Homo sapiens: one gene and its partner. The protein of the gene in region 2 purifies or fractionates together with the protein of the main gene of each other region. This does not show direct contact. Each region holds a gene or a part of one and is shown on either strand. Other genes may lie near its edges.

Region 1 (3,656 bases), on a different chromosome or scaffold from region 2:
TTTGTGTTAGATGACTTTGCCCAGTTGTAGGAACATGCAAGTGTTCTGACCATGTTGAAGCTGGGCCACGCTAAGCTCTGATGTACAGTAGGTTAAGGGTATTAAATGCATTTGAACTTATGACATTTTCAACTTAAACAGGATAGAGTCCCATCATAGGTCAAAGAGCATCTGTATTGATTTTCACTTACTCGTTTGAGTCTTATACCACCATACCCATTACCTTGGGCCTTGGCAGTATTCGGATGCAAAGTGGCCCATCAGCAAAGAGAATCTATGATTCAATGACATGGTCAGCACTTTTGACTCTGGGTAGGGTTTCTTTCTGCCCACAGTGGAGCAATTTAAAAACCCAAGTACTCTGATTTCCTGGGTTATTTGTGAGCCAGGTGGCCTTGTGCATGGCTCAGCATGGCCCGCTTTCAGCCTGGCAGTGAGGACTGCAGGGGCTGAGCTACGGGCATTCTGGCAGCTCTGTGCGTGGCTGGATGTACCACGGCCTTGGGCACACTCAGGCCCAGGCCCTGATGGCGGCACATCCATCTGTGCCCTTCAGCTGGCGGGGAACCTGCTGGACAAGCTGGTGCTTCTGTGCTGCTGCCCACGGGACACCCACACGATTGGATTGTCCTCGTGAGGCCCAGTGGCCGGTGGGAATGCGTGAGAAGGATCAGTCTTGCCATTGTCAACCCTTTTTACAGGATTTGGCTTGGCAAGGCCGTTTTCCTCTGCAGCTGGGAGAGTGATATTCACATATATTCAGTTGTTGGAGCCCCGGGTCTGTGACTAATTTACTATTATTAAATCACTGATGTTCTATATCGTTCAATTCCAAGCCCTTGGATTGAGCACCTGCTGTGTCTTTGCCACTGTGGTAGGTACTGTGGTGGCTGCTGCTTTTGTAGCTTTACTTCTAGCACTTCACTGTGTTCATTCACTTAATCCTCAGAGCAGCTCTATGAGGCTGCCACCACCTTACTCCCGTTTTATAGACGAGCAGCAGCACCTGCTAATTAAGAGTGAAGCCAGCTGCCCAGGGCGACGGCTTTAGCTGGGATGCCACCCTCCTGGTCTGGCTCAGCCGCCTTCCAGAAGCTCACAGGATAGTTGATAGCCCTTCCCTCTTTCCTAGGAGTTTTGCAAAGGAAATTTTATTTCCCCATTTCATTTTATTTTTATTTGTGAAAAGGTAATGCACGTAGTTCAAAGTTGACAAGGATGCAGAGGAAAAGTGAATCATCCCATGGCATCCCCAGGCACCTGGTGTATCACCCTAGATACAGTGTGTTTTCGTACAACTTTCTTAAATTCTAAGCAAATACAAGTAAATATACCTACATTTATTTTTCCTTTTTAAAATGCAAATGGTACTTCCTGTATTCCGTTCTGTACCATTCTTTCTTTTTTTTTGAGATGAAGTCTCACTCTGTCACCCAGGCTGTAGTGCAGTGGTGTGATCTCAGCTCACTGTAAACCTCCTCCCCCTGAGCTCAAGTGATCCTCCTTCCTCAGCCTCCCAAGTAGCTGGGACCACAGATGTGCGCCACCATGCCCGGCTAAGTTTTTGTATTTTTGGTAGAGTCGGGGTTTCACCATGTTGGCCAGGCTGGTTTCAAACTCCTGAGCTCAGGTGATCTGCCCGCCTCTACCTCCCAAAGTGCTGGGATTACAGGTGTAGCCACATGCCCGGCACTGTACCTTGCTTTTCAAAAAAATTCAGGCAGTATGTCTTATCGATCATTCATGTTATTACATGAAGAAAATTTTATTGTTCTTAAGACCGCAAGGTGTTTCTTTATATGAATGAGCCATCATTTATTGAGTGAGGCCGTGATTGATGAACATTTAGACTTTTCCCAGTCATTTGCTATTATAGGCACTGCTACAGTGAATAACCTCATTTTTTTCATGTACAGATATGTCTGTAGAATAATTCCTAGAAGTGGAATTCCTGATCCAAAGTCGTATGTTAAAAGTTATTTAAAACCCAATTACATGTTGTTTACAAAAAAGTGCACTCTAAGCATAAAGACGTAAACAGGTTGCAGGTAGAAGGGTGGAAAAATATAAACCATGTACATACTAAGCAAAGAAAGCTTTGCATCTATACTAGTATCAGAAAAAGTAGATTTCAAGGTGAAGAGTATTCCCAGAAATAAAGGGGCACCTCATAAAGACAGTGATCATCAAGGAAACGTAACAATCTCTAAATGTGTATGCACTTGTGTTAGGGGCCTCCAAGACCACCTCCCAGGTTTGAAGAGTCTCTAAGAGGACTCACATGACTCAGCATGTAGTCATACTCTCAGCTAAGGTTGATCCAGCAGAAGGATACAGAGCAAGATCAGCAAAGGGAGGAGGCATATGGGGGATGTCTGAGGGAAGAGGGTACAAGCTTCCAAGAGTCCTCTCTCAGTTGAGTCACACAGGATGCGTTTGATTCCTCCAGCAATGAATTGTAACAACACACGTGAAATGTTGTGTAGCATGTCCAAAATTCCAGACTCTCAGAAGGGAAACACGTGTTTAGCATAAGCCACAGTACATAAACAGTTTAGGCACAGTGAGCTCCTCTTACCAGTTAGGTGGTAGGAACTCTCTTGAAATCTAAGTTCCCAGACTCCAGCAAAAGGGCAGACTTCTAAGCTGGTCTTTCAAAGCATAACAGTAAGGTCTGTTCTGATAACTCTTTTGTACAAAAGAGCAAAATTGGACAGAACTAAAGGGAACTATATTCAGATTCATAATCATGGTTGGAGACTTTTAACTCTTCTTCTCTCAATTATTGAAAAAACAGATAGATCAGAACACTCATAGGGATTTGGAAGCTCTGAAGAATACCGTCAATCACCTTGTCATCTCTTAACGCTACTCCCAAGAAAGCTAGAGTACACATTCTTCCCAAGTGTACCATCAATCACCCTGTCATCTCTTAAACACCACTCCCAACAAAGCTAGAGAACACGTTCTTCCCAAGTTCATATGGAACAGTCACCAAGATAGACCGTATGCTGGGCCATTAAAATGTCCCAATAAGCTTCAAAGGACCCAAATTATAGAGTATGTTTATCGACTACTGTGCTTTTAAGTTAGAAATAAATAATATGAGATCTAGAAAATCCTCAAATAGGAAATTAACATACTGGATCAAAGAAGAATTAATAGGGAAATTAGAAAATAATTTGAACTGAGTAATGGAAGAAAATATACAGATTTATAGGATATAACTAATACAGTTCTTTGAGGGAAATGTATAGCTTTACATGACTATATTAGAAAAGAAGAAGGTATAAAATCAGTGACGTCTGTTTCCTCCTTAACAACCTAAATAAAGGAACAAATTAGATACAAACCTAAATAAAGGAACAAATTAGATACAAAGTAACTAGAAGGAAGGAAATGGTAAATACAGTTATGCATGGTTCCTTGACAGTGCCGACACATTCTGAGAAATGGTGTTAGGTGATTTTGTCATTGTGCAAACATCATAGGATGTACTTACGTAAACCTAGAGGGTAGAGCCTGCCTCACACCTAGGCTCCATGGTATAGCCTGTTGCTTCTAGGCTACAAACCTGTATGGCACATTACTGTACTGAATACCATTGGCAATTGTAACACAACGGTATATCAAACATAGAAAAAACAGTAAAAATA
Region 2 (3,656 bases):
ACTACAGTAGGTCAGGTTGTGTAGTTTGTATGATTCACTGACATTTATAAGATTTTTTTGGCCTAGTTAAGTGTTGATTTTTTATACATTTCATATTTGCTTGATAAGAATGTACATGATTACAATGTGTTAATATATCCATTAAATCATGCTTATTGTTACTCATATCTCCTGTATTTGAGAGATGAATGTTGAAATCTCCCTTTATTATGTTGAACTTGTGGTTTCTCCTTATAATTCTGCCTATGTTTGCTTTACATATTTGGAGGGTAGTTTTTGAAATGTATACAAGCTTAAGATTTTTATATCACCCTAATTAATTGAACCTTTTATTATTTTCTAGTGATTTTCTTTTGTCTTTAGTAGTGATTTTTGTTGTAAAGTGTAATTTGTCTAATATTGATAGACCTACATCAGCTTCCTTTTAGTTAGTATTTGTTACTTCTTTTTTCATACTTTTACTTTGAATATTTTTATGTTCGATGTATCTCTTGTAAGCATGATGGCTGGATTTTTTGAAATCCACTCTGTCCACCTTGACTTTTAACTGATAAACTTAGTTCTTTTATGGTTATTTTGGTTATTCATATAATTGATCTTGTTTCTTAGAATTATTCATATAATTGATCTTGTCTCATTCTGTGCTTTTTGTTTATCTCGCCTTTTCTGTGATTGTTCTTCTATTATAGAAAATGATGTAGTTGGATTTTTTTCCTATCATGCCTTATTTAAAATTTTTAAAATTGTTTCCAAATTTTTGTATTAAATTTTTTTCTTCTCTACTAATTTGGAAATTGTGCAGACTTTAAATCTAAAGTCAAACCATTTTCTTGGCTTTCCTCCTCACGCATACGAAGACTTTAAAACATTTTAATTCTGACACTTGCCTCCCTCTCAATTTACATGCTCTCATTGTCCAGAATATACAGGTAGTGTTTATTTTCACTTATTCATCTAGTTATTGCTTTCTGCTTCATTTTTTTCTTGCATCATATACCTTTCATCTGGGAATTGCCTTCTGCCTGATGTTCATCTTTGAGAATTTTCTTTATAGTAAGGGTCTGCTTGGTGTCAAATTCTTTTTTTAAAATCTGCAGATCTTTTTATTGCCCTCATTCTTGTAAGATACTTTTGCTGGATATGTATATTCTATACTGACAGTTATTTTCTGTTGTTGAAGATAACACTTCACTCCCTTCTGACTTACATTATTATTGTTGTTAAGTCAGCTGTCATTCTAATTGTTTCTTTGTAGATAACTAGTTTTAAAATGATTTTTTAAAATTTCTGGTTGCTTTTAATATCATCTCTTTGTCTTTGGTGAATGACAATTTCAGTACTATGTTTCTAGTTATGGATTTCTTATTTTTTTATCTTGTTTGGCATTTGTTGGCTTCTGAAATTAAGGGATTGGTGTTTTTCATCAGTTCTGGAAAATTCTCAGCATTTTTCTTTACATTGCTTCCGTCCCATGCATTCTCTTCTCTTTCCGGGACTTAGATTAGATGTATACTAGAACTTTTGGCTCTGGCTCCTATGACCCTTAACCTCTCTTTCATATTTTCTATCTCTTTGCTTCTCTGTGATCTGAAACCAGACAAGATCGAGGTAGGTAAATATGAAAGCCAGATTTGCCCAACTGGCAAATGCATATATTATCCCTGGGATCCAGTCACAAAGCCTTGAATTCAACCCAAGACAGGAAAGTTGCAATTGAGATGTTTTCATTAAGACCAAACCTTTGAGGGGCTAAAGCATAACATCTGGCCTCCTGGCAGGTATAAACCTAGATGCTGTGTGAAAGTACTCCGAGTTGAAGGCCTCAGAATTCTCATATATTAAGTTCAACCAAATATGAGCTTATAATAAAAAACATTTTTGAAAAAGGCACTATGAGTGAAAACACAAACAACTAACTTCATATTTGAACATCTAGAAACTTCAAATACTAGAATTTTTTTTCTTTGTTTGAACTTAAGTGTATAATTTAAGAAATCCTTAATAAAATGAAAATTAGAATCAAATTGTATATATTGTGGTCACAATAAAGCAGCTTTGATATTCGTATCTATTAGAAATATATTATTGTTTTCCTAGACATATGTTCTGATTTTTAAAAACTTAATTATCAATATTCCTTCAACCCTTTTTTCCCCTGGAATTTTCAGGCGTAACATTCATGGGGTAAGCAAAGAAAAAATAACAAGAATGTTGGAACATTATCAACGTTTTGTTTCAGTGCCAATAATTATGAGTTCTTCGGTTCCAGAGAAAATTGAACGTATTGAGTTGTGTGCATATTCTTGTGAGGATAGAAGCACTAGGTAGGTTAAAATGCCTTATGTACAAAATTCAATTTGAAATATAATTTTTAAAAGGTATAATTTTGGAGCTTGTGGAATCATTGCTGATAAACTTTAAAAATAAGGTGGACTTGGCTGGGTGTGGTGGCTCACACCTGTAATCCCAGCAGTTTGGGAGGCCGAGGCAGGTGGATCACCTGAGGTCAGGAGTTCGAGACCAGCCTGACCAACATGGAGAAACCCGTCTCCACTAAAAGTACAAAATTAGCCTGGCTGGTGGCGCATGCCTGCAATCTCAGCTGCTTGGGAGGCTGAGGTAGGAGAATTGCTTGAACCCTGGAGGCAGAGGTTGCGGTGAGCTGAGGTTGCGGTGAGCCGAGATTGCGCCATTGCATTCCACCCTGGGCAACAAGAGCAAAACTCCATTTCAAAAAATAAATAAATAAATAAGGTGGACTTTTGTTATTTTTAAGGATTTACTTATAGTCTTACCTAGGGTGGGATATATGTAGTTATCAAGAGAAGTACAAGTTCATATGAGAGATGACATGACAGTTCTTTTATTGTCCTCAGAGTTTTGTGAGTCCGTGATTATGCTATGAATTCTCCTGCCAGTTTTACTTGACGCTCGCTGCTAATCCAGTATTTCCCTTATCTTCTCGCTGTTATTATTTTGTATCCACTCAAATCACTTCTTAATTTCCTTAAGTTTTAATGAAAATACTCTTTCAAGCTAGTGTTATAAAAATTATTAACAGTACACTTTTACCAAGTAATACAAGTCATGGCCTTCTGACAATTTGCAATCCAAGGTAGCACTGATTCTGTTTAGCAACGAAGACACATAAACAATTGAATAAATAAAAACAGCATTAACTGACAGACAGAGTAAAGAAGAAACCACAGGTCTGAATTATCCATATGTTTTGATGGTAAGGGATAGAGAGCTTCTGTTAAAAAGGAGTTGGGAATGGGGAAGAGAAAATTTATAAATGCTTTTTTGATTGAGAAACAGTGTTGCAAAGTGGTTAAGAGCATGGACTCTTGAGCTATATTTCCTGGGTTCAAAAAGTCCCAAAGCTTTGTCATCTCTGACAAGTTACAAATCTTTCTGTACTTCAGCTCTTCATTTCTAAAATGCCAGTAATAACACTCTGCTCATAAAAATCTTATAAGGATTATGAATTAGTACATGCAAGGGACTTAAAGTAGCATCATCTAACACATAGAAAACTCAGCGTTAGGTATGATTTCACTTAGGAAGGCATCCTGCGAGAGTTGGGACTTCGAGCACTCCTGAAGTTAAAAAAAAGAGGAAATGCATTGACAAATTTAATCGAGAAAAATTAACTA

Evidence for each region.
Region 1: the proteins of N4BP2 (region 2) and NPHP4 purify together in Homo sapiens (co-immunoprecipitation; one large-scale study listed by IntAct). This does not show direct contact.

What each region holds. Positions count from the first base shown.
Region 1 is NC_000001.11:5,982,289-5,985,944, reverse strand, and holds part of NPHP4 (nephrocystin-4), read left to right. Parts: intron 1-3,656. UniProt on the Homo sapiens protein: Involved in the organization of apical junctions; the function is proposed to implicate a NPHP1-4-8 module. Does not seem to be strictly required for ciliogenesis. Required for building functional cilia.
Region 2 is NC_000004.12:40,115,701-40,119,356, forward strand, and holds part of N4BP2 (NEDD4-binding protein 2), read left to right. Parts: intron 1-2,168; coding exon 2,169-2,324; intron 2,325-3,656. UniProt on the Homo sapiens protein: Has 5'-polynucleotide kinase and nicking endonuclease activity. May play a role in DNA repair or recombination.